Linked DNA regions of Homo sapiens: regions 2 and 3 are each linked to region 1. Evidence: fine-mapped expression QTL. A gene starts in region 1. Each other region holds a variant in brackets. All regions are shown on one strand. Distances are from middle to middle.

Region 1 (10,884 bases):
TGGCTTGTGCCTGTAGTCCCAGCTACTTGGGAGGCTAAGGTGGGAGCATCACGTGACCTGGGAGGTTGAGGCTACAGTGAGCCAAGATCAGGCCACTGCACTCCAGCCTGGGCTACACAGCAAGACCCTGTCTGTGGGGGGGGAAAAAAAAAGAACTGTGTGTGTCTGTGTCTATATAGTCTAGAAATAGAAGACCAACAATTCTACAGAAAACCAGGCTAGACAGGAAGACAGTTCACACAAAAAGAAATGCAAATGACTTTTACACCTAAGAAGCTTGATCACACTCATATTAAAGACAGGCAAATTAAAATACATTGAGATACCATTTCTCACCCATCAGACTGACAAATACCCAATAATTTGACATTATACCTTTTTAATCAAGGCTACAGGGAAACTATTACATTGTTGGTGAGGTCATAAAATGGCACAACCCCTATACGGAGAGTAATTTCAAATATACAGCAATACCTACAAAGCTACATATACATTTACCTTTTGCCCTAGCAACTGCAAGTACAGAAATCTATCTCAAAGATACACTATCAAAATTACGTAAGCACAAGCTATTGTTTGCAGAGCTATCTGTAACAGCAAAAGAATGGTAACAACAGTGAACTGGTATCTATCCAGTGAAGCATAAGCAGTTAAAAAGAAATAGGCAAAATTTCTATCCGCATCTCTAGAATAAAATTTTAAGTTAAAAAAAAGGTGGGGGAAAAGTGTGACTAATAAGCTACAATTTAATCCAAGTGGAGGGAGAAACAAATATATGCCAAAATAAATACAAATAGCTTGTACCTTTAAAAAAAAAAAAGGAAGAAAGGGACATAAAATTGAAAAAGTTTTTAAAAAAGTATTCCAGGCCGGGCGTGGTGGCTCATGCCTGTAATCCCAGCACTTTGGGAGGCCAAGGCGGGCAGATCACCTCAGGTCAGGAGTTTGAGACCAGCCTGGCCAACATGGTGAAACCCCATCTCTACTAAAAATATAAAAATTAGCCAGGCACAGTGGCAAGCGCCTGTAATCCCAGCTAATGGGGAGGCTGAGGCAGGAGAATCACTTGAACCCAGGAGACAGAGGTTGCAATGAGTCAAGATGGTGCCACTGCACTGCAGCCTGGGCAACACAGTGAGACTCCAACTCAAAAAAAAAATTAAAAAAAAATTTTCCTAGGTCTGCCACAGTGGCTCATTCCTATAATCCTAACACTTTGGAAGGCAGGCAGATCAGTTGAGCCAGGAGTTCAAGACCAGCCTGGGTAATATAGTGAGACCCTTGTCTCTACAAAAATTAAAAAAAATTAGCCAGGTGTGGTAGCACACACCTGTAGTCCCAGAGTCCCAGCTATTCAGGAGGCTGAGGTGAAAGGATTGCTTCAGCCTCAGAGGTTGAGGCTGCAGTGAGCTGTGATCACTCCTCTGCACTCTAGCCTGGGTGACAGAGCTAGACTCTGCCTCAAGAAAAAAAAAAAAAAAAAGTGCTATTTTATTAAGAGGGAGATAAGACAGTAAAAGAGACAAACAAATTAGACTTATCCAAATATAGTTAGCTTTACAGATTTAGTTTTGGAAGAGATTTTATATAATTATAAAATAAAAGGTAAATTTTTAAAAACTAAAAATTGAAAGATAAATGAAACAAATGAACCTAACAATATATATGCAGCTGGTGGTTAGGACCACATAAATTGAATTACAAATGTACAGGAAACACAAGGAACAGAGAAACATAAAACCCCACAAGGATGCAATCAGCAATATCCAGAATGTGGCAAATGCTACAGGACAGAGGATCAGTTTCCTAAACAAATTATAAGGAAAATGATGAGATGGAGAGAGAACCTAGGGATTTAAAAAGTTTTATAAGTGACATATGAACCAATTGGAATAGATGGACTTTATATAGCCCTTGCTTTGAACAATGCTGTTTATTTTTTTTTAAAAAAAGGGAAACAATCAGGAAAACCCAAACACTGACCAGATATTTGATGATATGAAGGAATTTCTGTCAATTTTTCCAGATGTGATAATGGTATTGTGGTTTTGTTTAATTCTTACCTTTTAGAGGGACATACTTTAGTATGTCACCTGGGAAATTTTTTTTTAAAACTAATTTCTGGGGCTCACAGATATAACTGACCTGGTATTGGGCCCCGATATCATTTTATTAAAACTGCCACAGATGATTCTAATGAGCAGCCAGGCTTTGTAAACTATTGATCTAGGGTAAGTTAAATCAACAAAATAAATAAAACCTCACCTAGGTATTAATCAAACTGCATGCCTCCAAAAGTACTCTTCCTGAAGACTGGAATCTACATATATTATTAACATTAAAGGATAAAACTGACATCTCTGAATTCTACTGTGCTTATTTTTAAGGTACTTGTAACGATTAAATAAATGTTTACTTAGCTCTCAAATTTACATAGCTACCTAAACTAAGCAAACTTTTCTTGACTACCTATACATATTGAACAAACCGAGAACAACAATGGCAAAACCCTTAAGTGTTCACATGCGGGACAATTACGACTAGTAACAATTATGATCTATAAACATACTTATCAAGAGATTAATGAGAACACATCTTCAATAAAACAAATGGACTGCAGTGCTACAAATCTGAACTACAGAAGAGGTTACCTAGGGTGCATGAGACAACTTCTTTCCAATTTAGTCTTATTTCTCTTATCTCGCCTTTTCAAAACTTGTACACAACCAGTGCAGGAAAAACAGGCAAGATTTCTATCCCCCTTACTGATCATTTTCCCAGCGGAAAACCCTGAATAAACCCACCTTAGATAGGAAGATAAGCAGAAAAGGGCTAATTAAATCTATCTATCTAAATATATGTAAATAAAAATCTATATAGACGCAAATAAATATATATATAAAAGATATATATACATATAAAAGCTCAGGAAAAAAAGTTATCACATTGAGCTTTTGTGTTTAGTTACCCATCCAGAAAGGCTTTGTGGCAGAGTGATATATTCCAAAATGCTTTGAGATCAGGGAAAAGATAGCTACTTGCCTCCAGAAGTTTGGGATTATGTTTCAACTGTTATCTTATATGAACACCACTAAATTTGAACAGGTCTAGTTCTTTAGGGTTGAGGTACAAAGTGCCTGAAGAAAATTATCATAGTAAGAGAATATACAGCTTTTTAGAGGAGGCCATTTAAGGAAAAAATGATGACCTCAGCTAAATGGGAACTTGGCTTTTCTTTATCTGTATGTAAGAAGGAATAAACTTGAGGTCTGAGAGAGAAAGTTGGAAGAGTAGGAAAAAAGTACACGGGGGAACAAAGAGGACAAATTATTAGACAGCGAGAATACTGAGTAAGTAGGTTCCATCAGTAGGAGAGAATTACCAGTTAAGTAAGCAACTCAAAGTTGCGATTAGACAGGATAGATGTTTTATAAATATTTGCTAACTAGCATATGAGTATTAAAACTAGGTAAACACTGTATTCCAATTAAATCTAGTTTGACTTGTAATTCTAGTTTAAACCTTTTCTGGGGCTTTTTCAGCCTTTTCATATCTACAGGTATTCTCTAACATATTTTCCAGATTTTTATGCCTTTACATTTGCTTAGAAAGATAATTATACAAAATGCTTAGATTTTAGTTAAATCTAGATTCTATTTGGGAAAAAACTCATATTTAACAAGATTAGGTTTTTCTATAAAAAGCATGAGTTATTCCAAAATAAATTATTTCTTCTTCATAACTTAGCTTTACAACCAAACCATACCATTTGAGGAAAGTGCATCTGATATAGTTTGCCTGTTCAGTGTCTCAACTTTTCTTTACAATATCTTAAGATTTTTGCCCTTTTTTTTTGATTTCCTAAAAGTGCACACAATTCATAACTCAAGCCATTTTGTGGATAAGATTAGTATCCAGTCTTCTTAAGGAGAGAGTGGTCTCTAATAATGGTATTATTCTAACACTTCTAGAAGGAAAAATGTATCACAGTGTATAATGAAATCACCAAGAAACAACACTATACAGAATATTTTCCTCGATACAGAAGTCATTCACTGTTGTATACTTATAAGAAGTGGCAATAAGACACTCTATCATTTAATATTACAATGTTTATACACAACTTTTTGTTCTCAAAAGTACTTTGACATGCCATTTAGTTTTTTACAGTGCTTTTTCCGAAAAGGTCCAAGTGACAAAAGAAAAGAAAGAACTATTTCAAACACAAATATTAAACATTTAATGGGATATGGCGGAATAAGCACTGGAAGTCAAGAGACTTGTTTCTAATCCCAGCTCTGCCTGTAACTAGCTGTGTGACTTCATATGCGTCACTAAATCGTTTCTTAAATTGTAAAGAAAGTAGTTCTTAATGTTTAAATCTGAATTTCTAAAAATCTACTACAATTAAGGTACTTTCAAATATTACATTATAATTAACAGCCCAATTAAATATAAGCCATTTTGCCATACGTGTTTAGTCCTTCGCTTTTGTCTCAATTTGACCTGAAGCCTGGATCAATTAGTCTGCACACTCAAGACGTACTCTGGGGCAAGAGGGACTAGGGAAAGATTCTTTTAAGATGGGATGATGCTGAGCAGGTTAGGCAGTTAGGAATGAATGCATATTCAAATAAGGCGCAATGAAGAAGAAATCTGCTTCCATGGGGAAATACGTTGCAATAAGATTTGAGGGAGGCCTTGAGCTGAGATTGTCAGGTAACCACACCTTCCACCCTTCAAACTCTATTCTCCCAGTGGAATCCAAACCAGTCTCCAGTTCCGGGTTCCCAACCAATCGCATCAAGCCACAACAGAGGGATCTGCCAACCCGGGCACCGCTTCAGGGATCTAGACCCAGTGAGAGTCACACAACCCCAGCACCTGTCGACCTCACACTCTTCCCAAATGGAGAGGGTGGGAAGGAACGCTAGGTCTATGCTTGGTCTTTTCCGATTCAAGCTACCACCAGGTCCACTAGCCCTCGAAACCGAAACCCCCGGACTTCGGGGAGAAGGGGAAGCTCCTACGCCGTGACTACGTATCAGTCCCTCAGGGCTAATTCTCCCATTCTCCCCCGACACTGGTTTCTCAGGCCTCGGGGACTCCGCGCCTGGAAGCCGACAGGCGAGAGTGAGGGCAGCGGGGGAGGGTGCACTCCAAAACACTGCAGGAAAAGACGGAAAAGCAGGGGCAGGAGTAGCAGTGTTCCCCCTGGGCGAGGGCCGGAGGCCGTTCGTGCGTTTGTCGATGGGTCTGTCATTCCCTCACTCACCAGGAGCAGAAGGGAGCATCTGAGGTCGGGTAAGGATAGGAAGACGGCAGGATGCATGGTAACGCTGGGGTCCGTGACAGGGACAGGCGCTGGCGGCTGGGACTGGGCTAGGTTGGGTTGGGTTAGGAAAGGGCTGGGCTCCGGGAGCCGACGGCAGCGGAGGATTCTCCAGGCAGCGGCACCTCGTCCTCTCGACCCGGGCTCCAGCGGCGAACACCCGGGACAACTTCCAGAGAGGCCTCTCACACCCTCACTTCCGGGTCCTGCCCACCTCGGTGCACTTCGGGAAATGTAGTCCTGCACTAGCCTCACCCCGCACGTCGTCCGTCATCTAGAACTTCCTTTCCCATTGGGCTCTCGGCCCCGGTCCACTGAGTCCTCTGCGCGCGGGGTCCTGTGGGATAGAAGGGCGGAGGGCGGGTGTACGCGGTGCTTCAGAGGATGGGAACTACAATTCCCAGAAGGATGTGCGGCCGAAAGCCTCGGGCGGCCTTTTGAGGGGCTCGGCTAGCTTCAGCGCCGTGGGGTCTGACCTGGCTGGATATAGTGTACCGGCCCGGCAGGAGGGGCGGCCCGGTCCGGGTTGCGCCTCCTGGAGCCGCCCCCGGGACGTCAGTCCTGGAGGAGGCGAGGGTGAGTAGGAGGGGGCCTGGCTGGGGAGGCTCAGATCATTCGGTCCGCACCGCCTTGGCCCCTGCTGCAGACTCACGGCCTTCCTGGCCTAGGCTGTGGCCTGAGCCTCCATCATTGGCCTCCTCGCCCGCTGCCTCTTCTTTCTGCTCTAATTCCTGCATTATAAAGTCAGAGCCACCACTCGGGGCCTCAGTTGAATGAGTCAATGACTTATCCCTGATTGTCTCTGAGGGCTCCTGTAAGGAGTAGATGTGGTACGGGATGGGATAGCACGTCGTAAACTGGAAAACTGTGTGAGTGATTGCTGCTAAGGCGTGGATCGCTCCTCCAGTATAATTACGAAATTCCCTAGCAAAGCAGTCGAGGATCCTAACTTGGCCCCAGGTAGCTCTGCGGCTTCTTCTGCAAACACTCAGTGAGGTCCAGGAGCCCACGCGATCTCTGCTTAGTACCCAGGAGGCACACTGTGCTTTTGTGGTTCTCCCTGCTCCCGCCTTTGCTTCAGCTTTCCTGCTGCCTGGAATGGCCTTACCCGTTCTCTCTCTGGAATGCTATCTTAAATGTCACCATCTCTGAGAACTTCCCGAACAACCAACCCTTTAGTCCTAATCAGAATTACTCTTCCTATGAGTGTGACTGCAGTACCTCTAGTTTTGTACGGTTATAATTATTAGAGCATTTATTACACGGGCTTGTTGTATAATTAGGCAAGGATGATGACACCTTTGCATTTTATAGCACTTTATCAAAGTGGTTTTGACTTTTTTCTATAAAAAATGATTTATTTTCTTAAAGGGGCAAAAAATACATTTTTTCTTAAGAAAAAAAAAGAGCCCTGCATAATGGCTTTCTCAGGGTGACAAAATTAGACAGTGATAGAGCCAATACTCTTACCAAGGCGGCCTAACTCCTAGACTAGTGCTCCTATCTCTTGTCCACGCCCCTGACAGAGCCCAAAGATAGTTGAAATGGGAAATTTTAAAAGAGCAGAGACTTGTAAGTATGAACTCATTATTCAAGAAATTAAACTTTGATCCTGCTCACTTTTTGGACTTAGCACTCAGCCTGTGACCTTTCATCCAACAAACATCTACTGAGTACTGGCTATATACCTGTTACTGTGCTAAGTGCTAAGAATTATGAAGTAAAAAGTATATATATATAATATATATAATATATGTACATATAATATATATAATATATGTATATATAATATATATATTATATATGTATATATAATATATATATTATATATGTACATATAATATATATATTATATATGTACATATAATATATATATTATATGTACATATAATATATATATTATATGTACATATAATATATATAATATATGTATATATAATATATATTATATATATAATATATGTATATATAATATATATAATATATGTATATATAATATATATATAATATATGTATATATAATATATATATTATATATGTATATATAATATATATTATATATGTATATATATTATATGTATATATATAATATATATAATATATATACATATATATTATATATATAATATATATTATATATATAATATATATGTATATATAATATATATATTATATGTATATATATTATATATATTATATATGTGTATATATAATTTATATATGTATAATATATACACACACACACATATATATAAAACAGAGATCACATTTTTAGTGTATTTTTCAAAGGGTATAAAGAACTTTTTTTGTGGTTCTGATGTGCCTAAAACTCTGATCACTTAGAATGAAAAATGACAGGTCTTAGAGTTTAGAACAGTGCCTAGCACATAGTTGTCACTCAGCTTGTTGAATGAACGAATGTGAACATGGTCTAACCTTATTATTTTTTGCATTTTACAGAAACCTAGAAAGCTGACATAGCCTGAGGACACACTGCTGATTATAAATACAACTGGGCCTAGAACCCAAGTGCAGTTACTCCCCTCCCATGTTTTCACCTCCACCTCTATTTTGTAGCTTCTCTCAAATAACCTTAATATAATCCTGGATATGACAGTAGTTCTTCTGACATGACTGTTAGACTCAGACATGACTGAAGTGTCTCACAACACCCTCTTCCTCCATATTTTCTGCCAGTCCTTAACTCAAATTGTCAGCAAAATAAAGACGTAAGGAGCTGTGCTTTACCATAATTAAGAAAGTATTAATATGTTCTCTCAAGGGCAGAATTTGAACCAATAATCCTTGTCGATGACAAGACAAATACCAGCTCATCCGTTATAAATTTATCTTAGAAAACTCTCAGATCCCCAGGAGTAACAGCGATTGGCGTGACCTGCTTTTTGGTGAAATCAGAAAAGGACTTGCCTACCCTCATGGCAGCAATTAACTGGAGCTGATTAACAGCTGCTCCCTTTAGATAAGTACATATGCTTGAGTTTACCGTGATTCTGTGACTCCCTACGTTTCTAACAGTTGTTACCTCTCTGGTCCTTGTAGGCATTCAGCTTTGGAACTTTGATAAAGCAGCTTAAGGGTTTAGGAAGGATGTTTAAGATCACTGATGCAACTATTCATCTTTCCTTCCCATCAGGTGTTTGAATTGTTGCTGCATTTCTCCAGCCTCTGCTTTCTTAAACACTCTTGTGATAGGGATCTCACTATCTTCCTATGCGGCTGATACTTATTTTTTATTTTATTTTATTTTTTTTGAGACAGGGTCTCCCTCTGTGCCCAGGCTGGAGTGCAGTGGCATGATCTTGGCTCACTGCAACCTCCATCCACCTCCCAAATTCAAGCAATTCTCCCACCTCAGCCTCCTGAGTAGCTAGGATTACAGGTGTGTGCCACCACAGCCCAGCTAATTTTTGTGTTTTTAGTAGGGACGGGGTTTCACCATATTGGTCAGGCTGGTCTCTCAAACTCCTGTCATATGTTTTTAAAAGGTTCTTACAAGCTCCATGAGACTACCGGTCAGAACAAAATTGTCCTTATTGAAATATGGTTCATTTTAGTGATACGATGTTCCAAGTAAGATCTTATGGTTAAGACCTCTATCTAGGTATATTTTCCTGGTGGACCAAGGAGAGAACAAATAAAAATTTCACTTTTTGTGAGAATGACGGCAAGACCTAGATACCTTTTAATTTAGTATTTAGCCAGGTGTGATGGCACATGCCTGAAGTCCCAGCTATTCAGGTGGCTGAGGAGGGAGGATCGCTTAACTCAGGAGTTTCAGGCTGTAGTGCGCTATGCCATTCAGGTGTCCACTTTAAGTTTGGCATCAATATGGTGATCTCCCAGGAGTAGAAGACCACCAGGCTGCCTAAGAAGGAATGAACTGGTCCACGTCAAAACTCCTATGCTGATCGTAGTGGGATTGCACCTATGAATAGCCACTGCCCTCCAGCCTAGGTAACATAGCAAGATCCCATCTCTTTAAAAATAGTTTTTTAACTAATTTTTTTTTCAGATGGAGTCTTACTCTGTTGCCCAGGCTGGAGTGCAGTGGTGCGATCTCAGCTCACTGCAACCTCCACCTCCCAGGTTCAAGCAATTCTCCTGCCTCAGCCTCCTGCATAGTTGGGATTATGGGCACGCGCCACCACGCCCAGCTAATTTTTGTATTTTTAGTAGAGACACAGTTTCGCCATGTTGGCCACGCTGGTCTCGAACTCCTGACCTCAGGTGATCTGCCCGCCTTGCCCTCCCAAAGTGCTGGGATTACAGGCGTGAGCCATCACACCCGGCCTTAACTAATTTTTTTATTTTTTTCTGAGTCAGGGTCTCAACCTGTTGCCCAGTCTGGCATGCAATGGTGTGATCTCAGCTCACTGCAAACCCTGTTTCTCAGGTTCAAGTGAAACTTCCACCTCAGCCTCCCGAGTAGCTAGGATTACAGTGCATGCCACCATGCTCAGCTAATTTTTAAAAACTTTTGGTAGGCAGGGCATGGTGGCTTATGCCTGTAATCCCAGCACTTTGGGATGCCAAGGTGGGCAGATCACTTGAGATCAGGAGTTCGAGACCAGCCTGGCCAACATGGTGAAACCCCGTCGCTACTAAAAAATACAAAACTTAGCCGGTCGTGATGGCAGGTGCCTATAATCCCAGCTACTGAGGAGGCTGAGGCAGGAGACTTGCTTGAGCCCTGGAGGCAGAGGCTGCAATGAGCTGACATCGCACCACTGCACTCTAGCCTGGGTGACAGAGCAAGACCCTGTCTCGAAAAGACAAGAAGGGAGGAAAGCAGGGGGAGAGGAGGGGAGGAAAGGAGAGGCGAGGGGAGGGGAGGGGAGGCGAGGGGAAGGGAGGGGAGGGGATGGGATTTGTAGAAATGAGCTCTCGCTATATTGCCCAGGCTGGTCTCAAACTCCTGGGCTCAAGAAATTCTCCTGTCTTGGCCTCACAAAGTGCTGGGATTACAGGCATGAGTCACCATGCCCAGCCCTAATTAATTTTTTTAAGTTTATTTAGTGCTTAAATCCAGCTAATTCTGACTTCACAATTGAGTTTATGTTATACTCTTTTTGTGGATCGGGCTCACTTTTATTTGCAATATCAATTCTAATGTTTAATATTATGTGGCATCATATTACTTGTATTAACTTAGATTATGTGGCATCATATTGCTTGTGTCACTGTAACCCTGAGCCCTGTGCCTAATGTTAAATATTGTCTTTGTTTTTTCCTCAGATAGTCCCTAAGAAGAGTCCTAGAAGCACCTACCCTCTCATTTTACAGATGAGCAGATGAGCAACTTGTACAAAAGTCACCTAATTTGCCACCTAATGCCAATTCCAGGACTAGGACTATAGCTTTTTTTCTTTTGAGACAGGTCTCACTAAGATAGACAGCCTCACTATCTTGCCCAGGCTGCTCTCAAACTTCTGGCCTCAAGCAATCCTCCTGCGTTGGCCTTCCAAACTGCTAGTATTACAGATATGTACCACTGCACCCAGCCAGGACTATAGATTTTTCTAATCCTAGTC
Region 2 (10,685 bases), 200 kb after region 1:
CCCCCAGAAAAGGCGCACTCAAGAGCTCAGAGGAGGAAGGTGCTCTCCGGCTGGTTCTAGCCGCCCTGGCAGTGCCCGGGGGGAGGCGGTCCATGCTGGGCAGAATCCTCCCCACCATCGTACACCAAGAAACAAAGTGACACAAGCCAAGCTCACAGGAGGGCTCTATTCACATTTGCCACAGAGCACAGAGGAGTTGAGGTCAGGAGCTAGGAGGCTGGAGACATCTACCCTGTCCGAGGACTTTCAGGTATCTAAGGAGACTGATCCAGCACCTGGTCCCCTCTCTGGGCAGAGTGTGAATATTGACCTTCTCCCCGTAGAGCTCCGACTGCAGATAATTCAGAGAGAACGAAGGAGGAAGGAGCTGTTTCGCAAAAAGAACAAGGCAGCAGCAGTCATCCAGCGCGCCTGGCGAAGGTAGGAAAATGGGGTGCTGCCGCATCTGTGGTTCTTTGTTACTGATATTCTCAACATGACATCTGTGCTCTTTGATGTTTTCCCAGTGAGTTCCATGTGGTGGCATGGTAAGGCCAATTTTATAGAGCCTACCCATGAAATTCACACCAGATCCTAGTAATTTACATTGTATAAACCATTTGGAAGATGTTTTTGCCTAGAAAGATGGGAAAGTGCTCAGGACAGCATGGGGTAAAGGAAAAAGCCCTGGGTTTGTAACCATGAAATGTGAGGTTCAGGTAAGCTCTAACAGGTTATGTGACTTTGGGCAAATCACATGGCCCCCCTGACCCTCTGCTTCTTCATCTGTAAAACAGGATTTAATAATTGTTGCACATGTCCTGTTAATATGACAGGTTGCTGGAATGAGATAATGCACGCTTCATTAATTCTAAATTACTACACATAGGAGATACTTTATTTTTATTCTTATGTCTTTACTACCCAGGAACTAGTCATACTCCAAACACCTAAACCAGGGTCTGGATATAACAGATTGAGTGACTAAACTGTATTATGTAAACCTGTCTGAGCATCTACCAAGCTCAAAATACATAGTAGGCACTGGGAGTGGGGGTGAAGGCTGTCCTAAAAGCCTGAAACAGACTCCCAATATAGTAGAGACAAATGCCGCTAGGGGATGATTATGGGAGGACTTGAGGGGTCTTATTGCTACAAATGTTCACGTCTCATAATCTCTTTCATCCTGAAAGCCTCACTAGAGCCTAAATCTAAATTAGGCCTTACAGTGATGAATGTCCAGAGAGAAGCTGGACCCATCACCAATAGGTGGGAGTTGGCCGGGCAGAGTGGCTTACACCTGTAACCCCAGCACTTTGGGAGGCCGAGGAGGGAGGATCACTTGAACCCAGGGTTATGAGACGAGACCACCCCAGGAAACACGGCCAAACTCCGTCTCTACAAAAAGTACAACAATTACCTACGCATGGTGGCACATGCCTGTAGTCCTAGCTATTTGTGAGGCTGAGGCAGGAGGATCGCTTGAGCCCAGGAGGTCAAGGCCACAGTGAGCCATCACCATGCCACAGAACTCCAGCCTGGGCGACAGAGTGAGACCCTGTCTCAAGAAAAGAAATAGGTGGAAGTTATGTCGCCGCCATCACTGGGGAGAGGAAGACGGATGGGGAGGGAGACAAGGCAAGGAAATAATGCGGCACAGGTGTATGAGATATCGAGGTTCCCGTCAGGAGAAAAAGGAAGACGTTCTCTCCTTAACATTGGCAGGGAGAAAACTAGATAGATTCCCAGGAGGTCCAGGGAGAGGCCTCCGTTCATATCATACCAGAGACTGCCTAACCCAGAGCCGGGTGATCTGGTTTGTGCTTGCACAGGCTTTGCAATGTGTTCTCCCTATGTCTGTTTCAGCTCTTGGCCATTAACAAAGTCCTCTCATGCCTGACCCCATGTGAACTCCCAACCACACCAGGAAGCCATCATGACAGGGAGCAGTATCCCCATTTTTCAGACGAGAGGAAAAACTGACTTGTCCTTTTGGTGCAGATCCAGCACTTGAACCTCTGGCTGACTCAAATCCAAGGGCCTTTCCCTTACATTATTAGTGAAGTTAGTTTTTGCTGTGGTCAAGCTAAGGGAGGTGGAGGTGGGCCCCATGCACTTTGCCTGAAAATAGGCTGGAGAAGGCTGCCTGGTTGGTGTCACACACATCAGGGTAACCAGGAGAAGGGTGATGTTACTACTACCAATTGTTAACATACTAGTATTATTTATTGGACACTTGTGCCACTGTTCAAACTAGTTTTACCTGTGCATGTAATCGTCACTGATAACCCTGCAAGGTAGGTATTGTTCTTATCCCCGTTACACAGATGAGGAAACTGAAGCACAGAGAGGTTCATCAACTCACCAACATTACAGAGCAAGTGCCAGGGCTGGCTTTGAGCCAAGACAGTCGGCCTCGAAAGCCACAGGTGGAAATGGCCATTGCACTCTGTGGGACATGCACTGGCTACCATCCAGATGAACTTTTTAAGTATTCTGGCTAAAATCTAGGATCTAAACAAGCCAGCAAGGTTTACCACGCCAGACCCCACAGCTGCTCCCTACCTGAAATGTCTCCTTCTCCGACTGTCTGACTCCTTTGAAGAGTCAGAAGCTGACAGGTCCTGTCAGTAAGTGACCAGAGTAGCAAATGAGCCTTCAGTCATTCCCCCAAGAACAGTGGGCTTATGGTCTAACATGCCCACCTGCGTAGGTAACTACACAGGCCCCCTCTGGATGTGCCATTGTGCAATTCTGAGGCCCAAAGGACTTCTGGGATTGTTGCACATTGCAGAAAGCCAAGTCTGGTGACAGTAAACACACTTTTATTGATTCTATTATATTTTAACTACATTTTCTATTGTAAATACAGGAGCCTGAAGCGCTGTCCTGCAAGTGTATCTGATAGCAAACCTAAGCAGTGAGGGCTGGGGCAGGGGTCAGGGCTGGACACTAAGTGTTCAGTGCAGGCTGTGGTTATAGGGGACAGGTGGAGGATGGAGAAAAGGAGCTGGAAAACAGGCAGGGAAGAAGTGGGCAAAATGAACCTTGGGTCCTGAGAAAATGAAACTTGATCTTAAAATTGTCAGTTTAATAACCAAGTAAGATGACTATTTTAAAGATTGAAACAGGATCCTGGACAAGCTGAGCAGGAAAGGTGCTGCTGGGCCCACTGAGGGCTGACACCATTAACAGCTTCAGCCACTACCTGGGCTTCCCCCCAAGTTCTGTGCCCACAAGAGCAGAAGGTATGGAAGACAGCATTTCAAACAGGAGAAACTGAATTATAGCGCGGTAGTGCCATACTTTTCTCTAGACTTGGCTTTTTGGAAATGTGGTACGTATTCTAGTAGAGGGATGCCATGGTGTTACCCTCCAGGACAGAAGGAAGAGTAGTGTAGGCTGACTGAAATCAGCCTTTGGGGAAGGAGGGAGGGGCTGCACCAAGCGCTGCAAGGAGCTTTTAGCAGACTTAGGAAAAAGATTACTTCCCATTTGGTGCAGCCCAAATGGGATCACTGTAAAATCAGACATGAAGCCTGTTGCTCTCTGCAGCTACCTATAGGCTCACTAGGAATAAAGACAGATACAGATAATAAACATTGCTGCAGCTTTCCTTTGGAGGCCTCAAAATAGTTGTTGTGCTCAGTAAGTTTGGGAGTGCATGTGGGACTGAAAACATCAAATAAATCCTAGATGTAAATATAGCCATCATCCCCATTCCTCACCCACTCTAAACCCACCTCCAACAGACTTATCTTAGTAAGATGCAGCTCATACCTTTACCACTCTAAAGCCCCCTTTCGTCACCAAAGACACAGTGCTTCCACATTGTGTTACTGACTTTCTGGCACAAATGCCTCTATCTATCTCTGCTGATGCCAGTTCTGCTACGTAGAATGCCCTTCTCTGCCTGGTAAGCTCCTATTCATCTTTTAAAATCCAGCACAAATATTAACCTTGTGAAACCTTACCAAACCATCAGTCAGTCCTGCATCTGTTTGCACAACCAGCTCCTTGCTCTTGCACAGTACTCTCATGCCACACGTACCTCTTTACACAGCAGCCTGTTCCACTAGTCTGTGAGCTCCTTGAAGGCAAGGAATCATGATTGAATCCTAGTTCAGGAGGTGTTTGATAATGGAAAAAGAATTCCACATTCAACATGCTGCCGCCAAAATTAGGAATGGGAGCTTGAATGAACCTACCAGGAATTCAGCAAATACTACTCCTATAGCTTCTAGAAACCTTAAGGAAATTTAGTTTTCTCAGTACTGTGATCTTAAAGCCTCTCCTCTCCTCTGACCCAACCAGCTACCAGCTCAGGAAGCACCTGTCCCACCTTCGGCATATGAAGCAGCTTGGAGCTGGAGATGTGGACAGATGGAGGCAAGAGTCTACAGCATTGCTCCTCCAGGTTTGGAGGAAGGAACTGGAACTAAAATTCCCCCAAACCACTGCAGTAAGCAAGGCCCCCAAGAGTCCATCCAAGGGCACCTCAGGCACAAAGTCCACCAAGCACTCAGTGCTTAAGCAAATCTATGGTAACTGTCCTTCTGCCTACTTTGTAGTTCACAAGTACCCCCAGAGTACCACATCAGAATCTGAAGTAGAATTTAATTACATTGGGTAAACTTCCATTCAGATAAATTAGGTTGGTGCAAAATTAATTGTATTATTAAAAATGGTCAAAACTGCAATTAATTTTGCACCAACCTAATATTTCTCAAGCACCATTTCATTCCTGCCTCCCAGCGATACTGGGTCATAATTGTTTGGTTTCGTGAGGCATTCTAGCATCTCAGCCCAGAGTGCCCTCAAGCTTTACTGTTTAAACCTCTCCAGACCCCTGCTTGAGTCTCCTCCTTGCATTACCCATTTGGAGCATTCACGACTTAGCTAGACTCTGCCTGTATCACTTTGACTTTTCCTATGCTGAGATGTTATAGGGTTGCCCACTATGAGAATGCTCAACACCCATGCACTATAGTAAATATTTGTTCAGCAGATTAACTGCTGTAAATTGAAACATTTTCAGCTCTGCAAAGAGCCCATCCAAATAGACCCAGTAGAGTTCAAGAAGCCTTGCTGGCTCAAGAGAAAAAAAGATAAGCAAGAGCACCTTTAGAAAGATCTCCTACAGCATGAACTTTAACATTCATTTAGCAAAATCTCAGGACTTTACCCTGGGCCTACATGTTTCCACACCATACCTAACTTATCTTGACACACACCTGCAAGCTCAAGCCTTTACCACAATAAGGAATTCAGAAGTTGGTCAGGCCAAACGTATCCCTGGCCAAAGAAAAGTAACAGTTGTTGGTTCATTTCAGGTTGTTCTCACGAAGGGAAAATACATCATCCTACAAGATCTGTAAAAGCCTCTTCTGTGCTGCGTCTCAACTCAGGTAAGGCAGCCACTGCAAAGCAGATGGTGGGGAAGAACATGGGGAAGCATTTTCCTTTGTTTCATCCCCAAAGACAGAAGACATTAGAACAGATATGGCCAGGGTTTTCCAATGGTCATTTGATTTCATGGGATTATTACTGTAGCCAACATCTGTCTCCCTAAGAGGCAAATTATTTTCACAACTAAAAGCTATTATTGTTAACATTAACTCCAACAGAAATAAATGGTAGCTATTATTGATCACTTTTACACATTTTTTCACACAAAGGAAATAAATGAAAATACTGTCACTCTTCAAAGGAATACCTTGGGAATCCTTGTTCCATTTTGGTGTCACACTATGATCCCCTATTTCCTTCTCCAAGATGGGAAGAACACCATGAAGAGAACACTGAGAGCATGTACAGCCCAGGCTCAGCTGTGCGTGCTTTCCCTCATACAGGAGAAGCTCAGGGAACTTTCTTTTCAGCCACCAAGACAAGAGTGTTTTACTTAGGGCCCCCTCATTCACACCAGCATTAAATATGGGTGATAAGTTCATTGCTGTCAGCAGCTAATGCCAGGTCCAGTGTTTCTCATAGGTGGCTATGGCAACACGCTCCCCCCTGCCTCCTCGATCCACACAGTCATCCTGGAGGAACAGAGTGCAGCTGGGAAGGTGAACAATGACTGTCAGCATGAACTTTAATATTCATTTAGTTTTTTGATGGGGGGCAAAAACCTGGAGGTGGGGGACAGAGTAATTACTGCCAAATCTTTAATAAGTGTTGGACAACTCATGTAATACAGACAGGCTGATCAGGGAGTGGTGGGTGGGGTAGTTAGAAACTTTCAAAGCAATCAAGGCCTACAGTCTGTTTAAAAACAAACAAACAAAAAAACCCCTTTCATTATACCTGAGCAAATTAAAGAATCATTTCAAAAACAGAATTGTCAGATATCACTACCAGAGAAGTGGCATTTAGACAATCAAATACTAGCATAAATTAGATAACTGGATCATTTTTCAGTCTTAAGAGAAAAACAAATCCAAGACTACCAGAAATCTTTTAAAATGGTGTTTAGCAGCAT[A/G]TAAGTTTTTTAGTTAAGAGACTCAGAAGGGACAGAGTAAATAAATTCAAATCAATACTTAATGATTTCTTAGGACTTCATATGAACAAGCAACTTACTTGTCCTACACATATTTTTGACTGGTTTAAAATCAGACAAGGATAAAATGATCTTTTCCTAACCCCAAATTTAGGAGAACACACAGTTTTGTTAGGCTCAAGCCCACCCACATTAAGCATTAACCAGTTAATGAATATTATTGCTCTCACCCTCCAACTTGGAGAACCCCCCACCCCCGAGGTTTTAGTAGTGCCTTTACCACTTAAAAAGGAAGAAGCAGAAAGGTGGATATAGCAAAATGCCAGCCTCCTTGGGCTGTTTCTCCACATGTATTTGGGAGGCAGCAAATCAATCCCTGCTCATGTCAGTCTTCTACACCCAGCCTTGCAAACCACCCACCAAGAATCTCAGCAGAGCCTTTTATTGACACACAACACACACACACACACACACACACACACACACACAGCCTTGCAAACCACCCACCAAGAATCTCAGCAGAGCCTTTTATTGACACACACACACACACACACACACACACACACACACACACACACACCTGGGCCTATCTCTTTAACAATAAAAGAAAAGAACTCCCTTTAAAGTTCCATTCCAGTGAATGGAATAACTGTGATTATTAGTATTGGTACCCCCTGTACAAATCCAGTTTATTCTTGCTCACCTGCAGAGGGGTACACAGATGACAACTCCATTCAAGATACAGTGAAGACAGCCAAAAACAATAGTTCACATTAAAATAATTTTGTGGAAGTTATAAAACCAAGAGAGAAAAATTGAGACATATGTTTGTTACTTTTAAAAACTACTAAACCTTTAATGTATTTGCTTATATGCTCCATAAAAAGTTAGAAGCAAAATATAGCAATGTCTTCAGCAAGGTTTCTCATATGGGGCCTCAGTATCATTTGTCAAAGTATATCACTAATGTTTTCTGACTGTGGCATCCTATACATTTGTTAATTCAAAGTCATAAAAAGGCCTCAAAAATCCATTTTGATATTCCCATCAGCTTATCATTCATGAGGATCTGAATATTTTCTAACAAACCTATTTTCTAGAACAACTATTCAAAGTGTAATAGGAGAGTTAAAAGATGTGTTACCTGTTTATGTAATGTGTTATGTGAGAGACCCAGAGAGAGAATCTATTTGTTATTTCAGGCAGACTGAAGACCGAGGTTCTGGTACCAGCTCCCCAAGTGCCTGCTCTCTCTTAATCAAGTCTCCCTTGAAGAGATGTCCCATATCTTGAGACTGCAGGAAATATAAAGCTATTATATTAAGTCATCCTGCCTCTACAGTAAACTGGCCCATCATCCCAGGGATAGCCTAAACCGAAATCCTTCTTCCTCAACACCAATGAACTATTCCCTTCAGCCTTAAAATTAATAACCTTAATATCTATCTGGTATTTGTTTTTAACAGTGAGCAACCTACAGTGTATACATCTCCTTGAGAACAGTGGAAGATCAAAGAACTTTTCTTATAACCTGCAATCAGCTACTCAGCCAAAAAACAAAACAAAACCTTGACTGCCTATGGAGGAAGACTGTGTTCGGGGGAGCTGGCATAGCTAGTGCAGAGTTCAGATTTTCTGCTGATAATCTTTTACACCTTGGGAAAACTTTAATATCCGTACCTGAAGGCTGATTCACCTAAAAATGTGTTAACTGAAAGAAAATGTCAGAATGTTTCCTTTCTGCTCTTACACAGCATTGTTTTGTCAATCAACACAGCCTGCACTGAAAGGACCTGCATAGACTATGTCTGTGCAAAGTGCCTGAGTGTCTGCTTTCACCTCAGTCTGTACAGTTGGAAATGAGAATTCATAATTAACAGCAAAATCTAAGGAAAACTACGGCTGCTGGGTTGGGATTTCTGCCAGCTAGCTGGTACTGGCTTCTTGTTTCAAGAGATGAACCTAAATGAGATAGGAAGCCTGTCCCATAGCAGCCTTCCTCTCACTACTTTCCTGGCATCTAATGCAACAAACTTATCACACACACACACACACACACACACACACACACACACACATATCACGTCCCACTATTACTTCAAAATTAATCAGGTTTAAATTTTAGATCAGAATCATTGCCCACTGTTTTCATTTAGAAATTGTCCAAAAGACCATAGATACATTCTGGTGATTCCTTACATTTTACAGTTCCTACGTTAGCCTCTCAAGGCCACAAGTTGCCGCCACGTCTTCACTGAATGGCTTTCTCAGTGCTGAATACCAACAGCCGTATTACAGTATCAAGGATTCTGTCAGGTAGGGTTTACAGACCAGACTGTTCATGCAGCAAGGTGCTAACTCAGGCGTCAACGTTCTACTTGTATTTTCTGACCAACTTGCAGAAGTGAGCAATCTTCTTAAAATGCCATTTCTGTTGGCAGGGAAGAATGAAACGGCACACATCCTAGCATTCTAAGAACACCTGGTTTAAATAAAATCCAGTGATGATGGGCTCTTTCACATTGTTTAAGGGGAAAGCTGCTGTGAGAATATTGACAGTAGGCATAAACAGTGATATATTTTACTCACAGGTATTTTGGGGGTTGCTTTCATTTTCTTCAGATCAGTGCCACTTCTGTGCTAACGGTAAGAGATAGACAGATAGGCAATGAAGTGTTCACTTAATTACCTTGGTTTTTAGTTTACTAATTATTACATTCATCGTTTTTGTGATCACAAAAACACAAAGAAGGAGGTCTGCCTGGATGGAATTACAAAGATTTAGCCAGTTTCTTGGTATATAACAGAAGGTACCACAGTATCACTCTCTATTTTGTAAATATTTAGCTCCTATGAAATGCACAATGCACAACCGCCTATGACCATGTATCGTGTGCTAGTCCGGGAAGCCAGCCTACACATCAATAGGAACGCCCAAACATTATTTTCATATATCAGTGCAAAGAAAGAAGGTTCGTAAACTTCTTTAAAAGTTCAGCTTTAATGACAAAGATCTATTACATCAGTCTTTTTCTTCAAATAAGATAGATGTGAATAAACAACTTCAAACAGGAGGTACTATGGCCTCTTCAATACACTGTAGCCAGTGCACTGGGCCCTTGGGGATGCCCAGTGATATACACGTTGAAGCAGTAATGTAAGTCTGTGAGCCACTGTTCCTGAACACTTCCACTCTTCAATGTCTGGAGAGAAAAACAAGAGTAATCTGAGAACTGCACCCAAATCACTATGCTACCTGACAGTATTTTTCACACCCAAACACAATTTCCCAGAGCTTTGGCAACTGTATCCCCATCTGTAAATTACCATAGGAAGTCTTCCAGGAAACAGGGAACTATTAATTGGGCATTACCACAGGCAGTGAAAATTCCTAGTTATATCCTCAAATGCTAATGGTTTCTTGTTAAGTCTGTTCCCTCCTGCACATGCTAGAGACTAATGAAATTTCACCACCAACCATCCCTTCACCCTTGCCTCTCCCTCTTGCCATTCTAGTGTCTCATGATCTTTACCCCAGTGCCAACTGAGAATAACTCTACAGGGCCAACCAACAATTTCTGTCAATCTCTTCTTTACAAAGATGGGCTGATTCCCCAGTCTGGGAATAATCCAAGCTCTTGATTTTCTTCCCTTCACTATTTCTGAATTATTCCACTGCCACTTCCATTACCCCTACAAAGGCTACTGAAAAAATACTAATGAGCACCTGTGTTATATGCATGTAAAAGCACTATTACTTCAAAGTATCACTACGAATCTCAAGGGATAATCTGCCAATCAAACTATACAAGACACTTTTTTAACCGCCCCCCCCCCAAACTAAAATCACCAAAGGAATCCTAAACAACAGAGCTGTCCCGGCCAAACAGACACAGCTGAAGGCAGAGAGCCAACCATTAGACAAAGCTGAAGTCTGCAACTTCTGATTTTCTTACTTTAGAGTGAACTAAGTGACTAGAAATTGGCCTGAAGTTTATTCCTGCTAAATAATTTCCTTAATGACAACATTTATGGAGCACTTAACAAATGTCAGGTATACTAAAAACTTTACTTGGGTTATCTCCTTTAATGATCACCAAAACACAATAAAGTTGGCATTATTCCCATTTTTACAGATAGGAAAACAAGCTTGGATAGGTAAGAAAGAAAGAAAAAAACTTGCCAAGCTGTCACAGTTCATTAATAG
Region 3 (11,071 bases), 200 kb before region 1:
CACCACCCCTCCTCCATCCTCCAGCAGCAGCCGCGTGGTGAGGAGAGAGAATCTGTATGCCTGGGGGAGGAAGAGCACAGTGATTGTGAGACTTTGCATTGGAACTCAGTGCTGCCTGTCACAGTGGAAAGCAACACAAGAAAGAATTTAGCTGGTGCTCAAAGAGGGAGCATTTAGACCAGCCCTAGCCAGAGGGGGATCATCCATCCCAATAGTCAGAACCTGAGTTCCAGCAAGCCACATGACCATGGGCTAAAGTGCTCTAGGACCCTAAATAAACTTGAAAGGCAGTCTAAGCAACAAGGACTGCATTTCCTGGGGAAGTCCTGGTACTGTGCTGGACTCAGAGCCAGTGGACCTGGGGGGAACGTGACCTAGTGAGACCCCAGCTGGGGTGGTCAAGGGAGTGCTTATGTCAAACCTCCCTTAACCCTGGGCAGAACAGTTTGCAGCTCCAAAAGAGATTCCTTCCTTCCACTTGAGGAGAGAGAGGGAAGAGTAAAGAAGACTCTGTCTTGCAACTTGTATACCATCTTGGCCACAGTAGAACAGGGTACCAGGAAGAGTACTGAAGCCCCCAAACCAGTCCTAGTTCCTGAACAACATTTCTAGACACTGTGGGCCAGAAGGGGACCCTCTGCCTTAAAGAGAAGGACACAGTTATGGCAGGATTCATCTCTTGCTGACTAAAGAGCACTTGGGCCTTGAATAAACACCAGCGGCAGCAAGGCAGTACTTGTCACAGGACTTGGATGAGACTGAGTGCTGTGCTAGCTTCAGGTGTGACCCAGCACATTCCCAGCTGTAGTGGCTACGGAGAGATACTCCTTCGGTTTAACGAAAGGAGAGGGAAGAGTAAGCCTTGCAGCTAGCTTGGCCGCAGTAGGGTAAAGCACCAAGTGCGCTCCTGGGGTCTCTGATTCCAGGACTTTGCTCCTAGATGGTATTCCTCAACTAACCCTGGGCCAGAGGGGAGCACACTGCCCTAAAGAGAGACCCAGGCCTGGCAGCATTCACTGCAAGCTGACTGAAGAGCCCTTGGGACTTGGGTAAACCAAGCAGTACTTGCCATAGGCCTGGGGTGGTGGTGGCCATGGGGAGAAACTCCTTCTTCTTGAGGAAAGGAGAGGTAAGAGTGGAAAGGACTTTATCTTGTGGCCTAGGTGCTAGCTCAGCCACAGTAAAATAGAGCACTAAGGAGCTGCCTAAGGTTCCCAGCTCCAGGCCCTGGCTCCCAGATAGCATTTTTGGACCTGCCCTGGGCTGAGGGGAGCCTATAGTCCTGAAGGGAAGGACAGAAGGCTAGCTGGATTTGCCACCTGCTGACTGAAGAGCCCTTGAGCCTTGAGTGAACACTGGCAGTAGCCAGAGTGGCTGCTGCAGGCCTTGGGCGAGACCTAGTGCTATGCTGGCCACAGGTATGACCCAGCACAGTCCCAGTGGTGGTGGTTACGGGAGTGCTTGTGTCACTCCTCCCCCAGATCCAGGAAGCTCATCATGGAGAGACTCCATTTATTTGGGATAAGTAAGAAAAGTGAACAAGAGTCTCTGTCTGGTAATCCAGGGAATTCTCTCAGATCTTACCCAAGACCACCAAGGCAGTACATCTACGAGTCTGCAAGAGTCACAGCACTACTGGGCTTAGGGTGGCCCCTAATGCAGATATGCTTGCAGTGAACAGAGACTTATATCACAACACTCAATTCCCTCTGAATACCTGGAAATCCTTCCCAAGAAGGATAGGTACAAACAAGCCCAGACTGCAAAGACTACACCTAACTCTTCAATGCCCAGACATTGCTGAATATCCACAAGCATCAAGACCATCAAGGAAAACATGACCTCACTAAACAACATAAATAAGGCACCAGTGACCAATTCTGGAGTGACAGAATTACATGAACATTCAGACAGAAAATTCAAAATAGCTCTTTTGAGGAAGTACAACAAAATTCAAGATAACACAGAGAAGGAATTTAGAATCATATCAGATAAATTTAACAGAGATTCAAATAATTTTTAAAAACCAAGCAGAAATTCTGAAGCTAAAAAATTCAGCTGGCATACTGAAGAAGGAATCAGAGTATCTCAACAACAGAACTGATCAAGCAGAAGAAAGAATGAGTGAGCCTGAAGATAGGCTACCTGAAAATACACAGTCACAGGAGACAAAATGAAAAAGAATAAAAAAGAATAAGGCATGCCTACAGGATCTAGAAAATAGCCTCAAAAGGGCAAATCTAAGAGTTACTGGCTTTAAAGAAAAGGTAGAGAGAGATTGGGGTAGAAAATGTATTAAAAGGGATAATAACAGAGAACATTCCAAACCTAGAGAAAGATATAGGTATTTAAGCACAAGAAGATTATAGAACACCAAGCAGATTTAACCCAAAGAACATTACTTCAAAGCATTTAATAATCAAACTCGCAAAGGTGAAGGAAAGGAAGAACCTTAAAAGCAGCCAAAGAAAAGAACCAAATAACATACAAAGGAGCTCCAATATGTCTGGCAGCAGACTTCTCAGTGGAAACCTTACAGGTTTGACATGGCAGTACATATGGTGTGACAGAGTGGCATGACATATTTAAAGTGATGAAGAAAACACGTTTATCCTAGAATAGTATATCCGGTAAAAAATATCCTTCAACCATGAAGAATAAATAGAGACTTTCCCAGAGAAAGAAAAACTGAGGGATTTCATCAACACCGAACTTGTCCTACAAGAAATGCTAACGGGAGTCCTTCAATCTGAAAGAAAAGGATGTTAAGCAATAAGAAGTGATCTGAAGGTACAAAACTCACTGGTAATAATAAGTAAACAGGCAAAAACGGAAGTTTTTTCTTAAGACAGGGTCTAGCTTTGTTGCCCACCCAGCCTGCAGTGCAGTGGTGCTATTAATAACACAGCTCACTGCATCCTCAACTCCTGGGCTCAGGTGATCCTCCCACCTCAGCCTTCCAAGTGGCTGGGACCACAGGCTCATGCCACAGTGCCTGGCTTATTTTTTTAAAAATTTTTGAAGAGACAGGGTCTTGCCATGTTGCCCAGGCTAGTCTCAAACACATGGGCTCAAGGTGTTCAGACTGCCTGGGCAACATGGCCAAAACTGTCTTGCCCTCCCAAAGTGCTGGGGTTATAGGCATGAGCTACTGTGCCCAGCCAAACACAGAATATCGTAACACTGTAATTGTGGTATGGAAATTACTCACGTCTTGAGCAGAAATACTAAAATATGAACCTATCAAAAATAATAATTACAACAACTTTTCAAGACACGGACAGTGTAAGATATAAATAAGAACACCAAAAAGTTAAAAAGCAAGCAGTTAAAGTGTAAAGTGAAGTTGAAGTGTAGAGTTTTTATTACTCTTCTCTTTGCTTATTTGTTTGTTTTTACAACCAGTGTTTAGTTGTTATCAGCTTAAAATAATGGGTTATAAGCTGTTATTTCCATGCCTCATGAGAACCTCAAATTTAAAAACCTACAGCAGATACACAAAAAGTAAAAAGCAAGAAATTGGAACATACCACCAGAGAAAATACTCTTCACAAAAGGAAGGAAGGGCGGGAGGGAGGGAGGAAAGAAAGCAGGCAGGCAGGGAGGGAAGACCACAAAACAACAAGAAAACAAATTATAAAATGGCAGAAGTAAGTCCTTACTTATTGATAGTAACATTTCATATAAATGGACTAAACTCACCAATCAAAAAGACACAGAGTAGTTGAACTAATTAAAAAAGACACAAAGATCTGTTGTCTACAGGAAACACAGTTTACCTATAATGACACATGGATTGAAAATAAAGAGATGGAAAAAAATATTCCTTGCCAATTGAAACAAACAAAAAAGGAGCAGGAGCAGCCATATACGCTTTTTGTTTTTTGTTTTTTTTTTGAGATGGAGTCTCGCTCTGTTGCCCAGGCTGGAGTGCAGTGGCATGATCTCAGCTCACTGCAACCTCTGCCCTACTGGGTTCAAGCAATTCTCCCACCTCAGCCTCCTGAATAGCTGGGATTACAGGCACATGCCACCACGTCTGGTGAATTTTTGTATTTTCAGTAGAGATGGGGTTTCACCATGTTGGCCAGGCTGGTCTTGAACTACCGACCTCAAGTTATCTGCCCATTTCAGCCTCCCAAAGTGCTGGGATTACAAGCAGGAGCAGCTATATTTTTATTAGACAAAAGATTTCAGACAAAGTCTATAAAAAGAGACAAAGAAGGTCATTATATAATGATAAAGGGGTCAATTCAGCAAGAGAATTTAGTAATTCTAAACATATATGCACCTAACACGGGAGAGCACCCAGGTATACAAAGCAAATATTATTAAAACTAAGGTCAGAGATAGACCCCAATACAATGATAGCTGGAGACTTCAACACCCTATTTTCAGCATTGGACACATCACCCAGACAGAAAATCAACAAGGAAACACTGGATTTAATCTGTACTATAGACCAAATGGACTTAATAGATATTTACAGAACATTTCATCTAATGCCTGTAGAATACACATTCTTCTCTTTATTATATGAATCATTCTCAAGGATAGGTCATATATTAGGTCACAAAACAAGTCTTAGAACACTCAAAAAAATCAGAATAATATCAAGTGCCTTCTCTCACCATAATGGAATAAAACTATAAATCAAAAACAAGAGGAACTTTGGAAACTATACAAACACATAGAAATTAAATAATAGGCTCTTGAATGACCAGCAGGTCAATAAAAAAATTAAGAAGGAAATTTAAAATTTCCTAAAACAAATGAAAATGGAAACATGACACACCAAAAGCCATGAGATACAGCAGAAGCAGTACTAAGAGGAAAGTTTATAGCAATAACCACCTAATAAAAAAGGAGAAAAACTTCAAACAACCCAACAATGCATCTTAAAGAACTAGAAAACAAGAGCAAACCAAACCTCAAATTAGTAGAAGAAAATAAATAATAAAAATCAGAGCAGAAATAAATGATATAAAAATGAACAAAACAATACAAAAATCAATAAAATGATAAGGTGGTTTTTGAAAAGATAAATAAAGTCAATCAACTTTTAGCTAGACTAAGAAAAAAGACAGAAGACCCAAAGAAATAAAATCAGAGATGAAAAAGGAGACACTATAATCTAAACTGCAGAAATTCAAAAGATCATTAGAGACTACTATGAGCAAGTATATGCCAATAAATTAGAAAATCTAGAATAAATGGACAAATTTCTAGACACATACAACCTGCCAAGATTGAACCATGAAGAAGTCAAAAACCTGAACACACCAATCATAAGTAATGAGATTGAAGCTATAATAAAAAGGCTTCCAGCAAAGAAAAGCCCACTCAGGTGTCTGCTCCTGGACCAATTCCCTCTGGTCAAGGGTAGGAAGGGGTTCATGCTGGTACAACAGAGACTCATAACTGTTAGCATTCAGATCTGGAGGGGAGGAGCAGTTCCTGGGCTTTTCTTTGCAGTTCTCAGAAAAGTAATGGGCCAGGAAGATAACCTATTAGGTCTATACCATTGTGCCAAATTTGGATTTTATTTCAGATTCTTCATATACTTGCTTTATGATACTAGAAAATTTATTTCTTAATTCATGTAAAATACATTGTTTTCCTAGGATGTTCCAGGAACCGTACTAGGTTCTAAGTAAATAATAATGTATATCTTTCCTCAAGAAACTTAGAATCTAGTAGAGTCACAGATAAGAAGATGAAGAATTCAACTAATTATGATAAGGACCTTTATAGGGATAAGCATAGATTGCTGTAGTAGCTTATAAGGGGACATTAAACCTGGACTTGAGAGGGTGAGAGTATTAGTCTGTTTTCACGCTGCTGATAAAGACATGCCCGAGACTGGGAAGAAAAAAAGATTTAATTGAACTTACAGTTCCACATGGCTAGGGAGGCCTCAGAATTATGGCAGGAGGTGAAAGGCACTTCTTACATGGTGGTGACAAGAGAAAATACGGAAGATGCAA[A/T]AGCGGAAACCCCTGATAAAACCATCAGATCTCACGAGACTTATTCACTACTACGAGAACAGTATGGAGGAAACTGCCCCCATGATTCAAATTATCTCCCAGCAGGTCCCTCCCACAACACGTGGGAATTACGGGAGTATAATTCAAGATGATATTTGGGTGGGGACACAGAGCCAAACCATATCATTCAGCCCTTGGACCCTCCGAATCTCATGTCCTCACATTTCAAAAGCAATTATGCCTTCCCAACAATCCCCCAAAGTCTTAACTCATTTTAGCATTAACCCAAAAGTCCACAGTCCAAAGTCTCATCTGAGACAAGGCAAGTCTCTTCTGCCTATGAATCTGTGAAATCAAAAGCAAGCTAGTTACTTTCTAGATACAATGGGGTACAGGTATTAGGTAAATGCAGCTGTTACAAATGGGAGAAATTGGCCAAAACAAAGGGGTTACAGGGCACGTGCCCTGTAACAGAAAGCAGTCAAATTCTACAGCTTCAAAATGATATCCTTTGACTCCACGTCTCATATCCAGGTCATGCTGAGGCAAGAGGTAGGTTCCATTGTCTTGGGCAGCTCCATCCCTGTGGCTTTGCAGGGTATACCACCCCTCCTGGCTGCTTTCACGGGCTGGTGTTGAGTGTCTGTGGCTTTTCCAGGTGCACAGTGCAAGGTATCAGTGAATCTACCATTCTGGGGTCTAGAGGACTAGAGGACGGTGGCCCTCTTCTCACAGCTCCACTAGGTAGTGCCCCAGTAGCATCTCTGTGTGGGGGCTCTGACCCCACATTTCCTTTCTGTACGGCCTTAGCAGAGGTTCTCCATGAGGACCCCACCCCTGCAGCAAACTTTTGCCTGGGCATCCAGGCATTTCCATACATCCTCTGAAATCTAGGTGGAGGTTCCCAAACCCCAATTCTTTACTTCTGTGCACTTGCAGGCTCAAAACCACGTGGAAGCTGCCAAGGCTTGGGGCTTGCACCCTCTGAAACCACAGCCCAAGCTCCACATTGGCCCCTTTCAGCCACAGCTGGAGCAGCTGAGACACAGGGCACCAAGTTCCTAGGCTGTACACGCACGAGGACCCTTGGTCCAGCCCATGAAACCATATTTTCCTCCAAGGCCTCCAGGCCTGTGATGGGAAGAGCTGCTGTGAAGACCTCTCACATGCCCTGGAAACATTTTCCCCATTGTCTTGGCGATTAACATTTGGCTCCTCATTACTTATGCAAATTTCTGCAGACAGCTTGACTTTCTCCTCTGAAAATGGGATTTTCTTTTCTGTCACATTGTCAGGCTACAAATTTTCCAAACTATTATGCTCTGCTTCCCTGATAAAACTGAATACCTTTAACAGCACCCAAGACACCTCTTGAATACTTTGCTGTTTAGAAATTTCTTCCACCAGATACCCTAAATCATCTCTCTCAAGTTCAAAGCTCCACAAATCTCCAGGGCAGGGGCAAAATGCTGGCAGTCTCTGCTAAAATATAACGAGAGTCACTTTTGCTCCAGTTCCCAACAAGTTCCTCATCTCTATCTGAGACCACCTCAGCCTGGACCTTATTGTTAATATCACGATCAGCATTTTTGTCAAAGTCATTCAACAAGTCTCTAGGAGGCTCCAAACTTTCCCACACTTTCCTGTCTTCTTCCGAGCCCTCCAAACTGTTCCAACCTCTGCCTGATAACCAGTTCCAAAGTTGCTTCCACATTTTTGGGTACCTTTTCAGCAACGCCCCACTCTACTGGTACCAATTTACTGTATTAGTCCATTTTCATGCTGCTGATAAAGACATACCCAAGACTGGGAAGAAATACAGAAGAACTGTATTTGGACTTACAGTTCCACATGGCTGGGGAGGCCTCAGAGTCATGGCGGGAGGTGAAAGGCACTTCTTACATGGCAGCAGCAAGAGAAAATGAGGAAGATGCAAAAGTGTGGAAACCCCTGATAAAACCATCAGATCTCTTGAGACTTATTTACTACCATGAGAACAGTATGGGGGAAATCGCCCCCATGATTCAAATTATCTCCCATGATTCAAATTATATCCCACCAGGTCCTTCCCACAACATGTAGGAATTATGGAAGTACAATTCAAGATGAGATTTGGGTGGGGACACAGAGCCAAACCATATCAGTGGGAGAAGCTTCCTAGGTGAGATGACTTTTGAGTCCAGCAGAATAAAGAGTAATTTCTTTACTCTGGGGTGGGGGGAAAGAGATGGGGGAAAGCAGGCAAAAAATGGCATTCTAAGAAGAAAGAGTAATAGTTGCAAAATCAATTTGGATTTTTTAAAATGTTTTATTATAGAAATCATAAAGGGGGCCTGGTGTGGTGGCACACACCTGTAATCCTAGCACTTTGGGAGGCTGAGGTAGGAGGATCACTTGAGCTCAGGAATTGGAGACTAGACTGGGCAACACAGGGAGTCCCAATTTCTAGAAAAATAAAATTAGCCCAGCATAGTGGCATACACCTGTGGTTCCAGCTTCTTGGGAAGCTGAGGCAGGAGGAGGTCAAGGCTGCAGTGAACCATGATCACCCCCATTGCACTCTAGTCTGGGTGACAAAGCAAGATTCTATCTCAAAACAAAACACGAAGGAAGGAAGGAAGGGAGGGAAGGAAATAAGAAAGGAAAGGAAAAGGAAGGAAGGAAATAAGAAAGGAAAGGAAAAAAGGGAAGGAAGGAAGGAAATAAGAAAGGAAAGGAAAAGAAAGGGAAGGAAGGGAAGGAAGGAAGGAAAAAAGAAAGAAAAGAAAGAAAAACAAGAAAGAAAGAAAAAGAAAGAGAAAAATCATAATGGGATTTTGATAAATTTTTAAGTTAGTTTGGTGGAAATGGACAACTTTACAATATTGACTGTATTACTTTTCCACATAGTCAAGTCTTTACTTGTATCTTATATGGAAATATGGAAGTCAGGTTAAAGTATAAATACTGTTACGTAAGATTTGAGTCTTACTCCTGTTATGTAGTATATGAGACTTGGACCTTGGTCAAGTTACTCTCTAAGCCTCAATTTCCTAGTTTGTATGAAGGGGGTGATTGTAATACCTACTTCATGGGTTGTCATCAGTATTAAATAACATATTGCATGTAAAGCGCCTAACCAAGTGCTTTACACATCACATGCAATCAAATAAAAAGCTACTTCTTCCCCCCTCCCTTTTTACATGGCTTTATTTAGGTATAATTCACATACAATAAGCACTTATACATAAACATATTTACAGTGTACAATTTGGTAAGTTTTGACATATATATACGTCCATGCAGCTATTACCACAATCAAGATAATGAACATTTCTATCACTCCCAAAGTTTCCTTATGCCCCTTTGTGATCCTTCCTTCCACCCCTATCCCTCATCTAGCTATTATTCTCAATTCTTCAAATAGGTCTTGTAATTCCTTATAAACACAAACTTGATTTTTGTCATTTTTGAATGTAATCTTCCTCCCAGTACATTTCAATTTTTTTTTTTTTTTTTTTTTTTGAGACAGGGTGTCAGTCTTTTCTGCAGGCTGGAGTGCAGGCTGGTGGGATCATAGTTCATTCCAGCCTCAAACTCCTGGGCTCAACTGATCCTCCTGTTTCAGCCTCCTGAGTAGCTGGGATTATAGGTACATGCCACCATACCCAGCTACGTTTTTTTTGTTTTTTTTAGAAATGGGGTCTCACTATTTTGCCCAGGTTGGTCTTGAATTTCTAGCCTCAAGCAATCCTCCCTCATTGGCCTCCCAAAGTGCTGAGATTATAGGCATGAGCCATCACGCCCAGTCTTCTTCTCATTACATTTTAAAATTGATGATTGTTGTTTAGGAGAGGTATTTTATAGCCATCTTATTGAATTAGTTTCAGTTTATTCCATGGATTTTCCAAGAAAGCAATCAATCATAACACCCTAAGAATTTTTTTTAATTTTCTTTCCAACATATACACTTAATGTTTTGTTTGGACTTGCTGGGTTCAGTTAGGACTTCAGGAAAATGTCGGCCAGTAGTAGCAGGCCTGCCCCTAACAACTTGATGACCTAGAGTACACAAAAGAGGTCCACACACCATATGTTTGAATATTTAAAGATTATAAATCAAGCTAACCAACAGTTAGATTAAAAGGTTTTGGTCGGGCATGGTGGCTCACACCTGTAATCCCAGTACTTTGGGAGGCCGAGGCGGGCGGATCACGAGGTCAGGAGATCAAGACCATCCTGGCTAACATGGTGAAACTCTGTCTCTATTAAAAATACAAAAAATTAGCCGGGCATGTTGGCACACGCCTGTAGTCCCAGCTACTCAGGAGGCTGACACAGGATAATCGCTTGAATCTGGGAGGTGGAGGTTGCAGTGAGCTGAGATCATGCCACTGCACTCCAGCCTGGGCGAAAGAGCAAGACTCTGTCTAAAAAAAAAAAAAAAAAAAAAATGTTTATCCTACTACTTTGACACACCTAACTTACAGCAAACATACATATAACAACTTAGAAGTCCAGGTCCAAATTTAGAATCTTTGAGTACCACACCTCCTGATTTTGTACCTGAGGAAGCTTTTTCAGAACTTAACACAAATGATCTTTTATTTCAAAAGATCTTATTTCACTGATCCTTGCATAAAAAACATTTTCTCACAGTATTGCCTAATACTTTAATTTTTCTCCTTAGAATCAAAATTTGATAAATACATTCTGGAGCTCATTGTAAAACAAATATCAGTATACATTATGTCCCCAAAGAAAATCCAAATTGCTTGGTAGATTTGGTGCTTTGTTTTAGAAATTGTCTTTCAAGGCTTTTTAAAGGATCTACAGGCCCCTAATCTTCCCTGTTTACCTCCTACTCTACTGGAAGACCCTAAGAACTCAGTTTCCTTAACTGTGGTTTGAACATCCTGATCACTTCTGAGACAATGCCATTAGTGAATACATTCTAAGCACGTCATCTGAATATTCACAGACATCTTTTTAAAAGGGCTGGATCTGGAAGTTAGGCCATGAAGAGAGGAGGACCTGTGACTTGGACAAGGCTTCAAAGCCGGCCACCTGCTTGTTCATGTGGTTGCAGCTGGTCTAACTGGAAT

Alleles and levels. Positions count from the first base shown, and alleles are read on the strand shown. Sizes are in standard deviations (SD) of each study's normalised expression. Not every link is listed here.
In carriers of allele A in region 3, the expression in neural progenitor cells of the gene that starts at base 5,735 in region 1 tends to be higher than with T alone (large effect, 1.1 SD a copy in Aygun 2021).

The links. PIP is the estimated chance that this variant, and not a neighbour inherited with it, causes the effect.
Region 2: its variant is fine-mapped to the expression of INVS in whole blood (TOPMed, PIP above 0.99).
Region 3: its variant is fine-mapped to the expression of INVS in neural progenitor cells (Aygun 2021, PIP 0.95).

What each region holds. Positions count from the first base shown.
Region 1 is chr9:100,093,509-100,104,392 of GRCh38, forward strand. INVS (inversin) reads left to right here and starts at 5,735. Exons shown (of 17, transcript NM_014425.5): 1 at 5,735-5,908. ERP44 (endoplasmic reticulum protein 44) reads right to left here and starts at 5,492. Exons shown (of 12, transcript NM_015051.3): 1 at 5,276-5,492. The coding sequence starts at 5,332. It also overlaps the pseudogene RN7SL75P. RefSeq lists enhancers at 5,339-5,408, 5,419-5,558 and a silencer at 5,799-6,008.
Region 2 is chr9:100,292,624-100,303,308 of GRCh38, forward strand. It overlaps INVS (inversin), which reads left to right. Exons shown (of 17, transcript NM_014425.5): 14 at 1-420; 15 at 4,294-4,523; 16 at 5,313-5,387; 17 at 7,945-9,552. The coding sequence ends at 8,051. TEX10 (testis expressed 10) reads right to left here. Exons shown (of 15, transcript NM_017746.4): 15 at 9,461-9,681. The coding sequence ends at 9,568. Among named protein-coding and RNA genes, the nearest start is that of TEX10, 55 kb to the right of the region's middle. The variant A/G (reference allele first, on the strand shown) is at 6,461.
Region 3 is chr9:99,894,946-99,906,016 of GRCh38, forward strand. STX17-DT (STX17 divergent transcript) reads right to left here. Exons shown (of 3, transcript NR_038853.1): 2 at 1-60. Among named protein-coding and RNA genes, the nearest start is that of STX17-DT, 6.1 kb to the right of the region's middle. The variant A/T (reference allele first, on the strand shown) is at 5,988.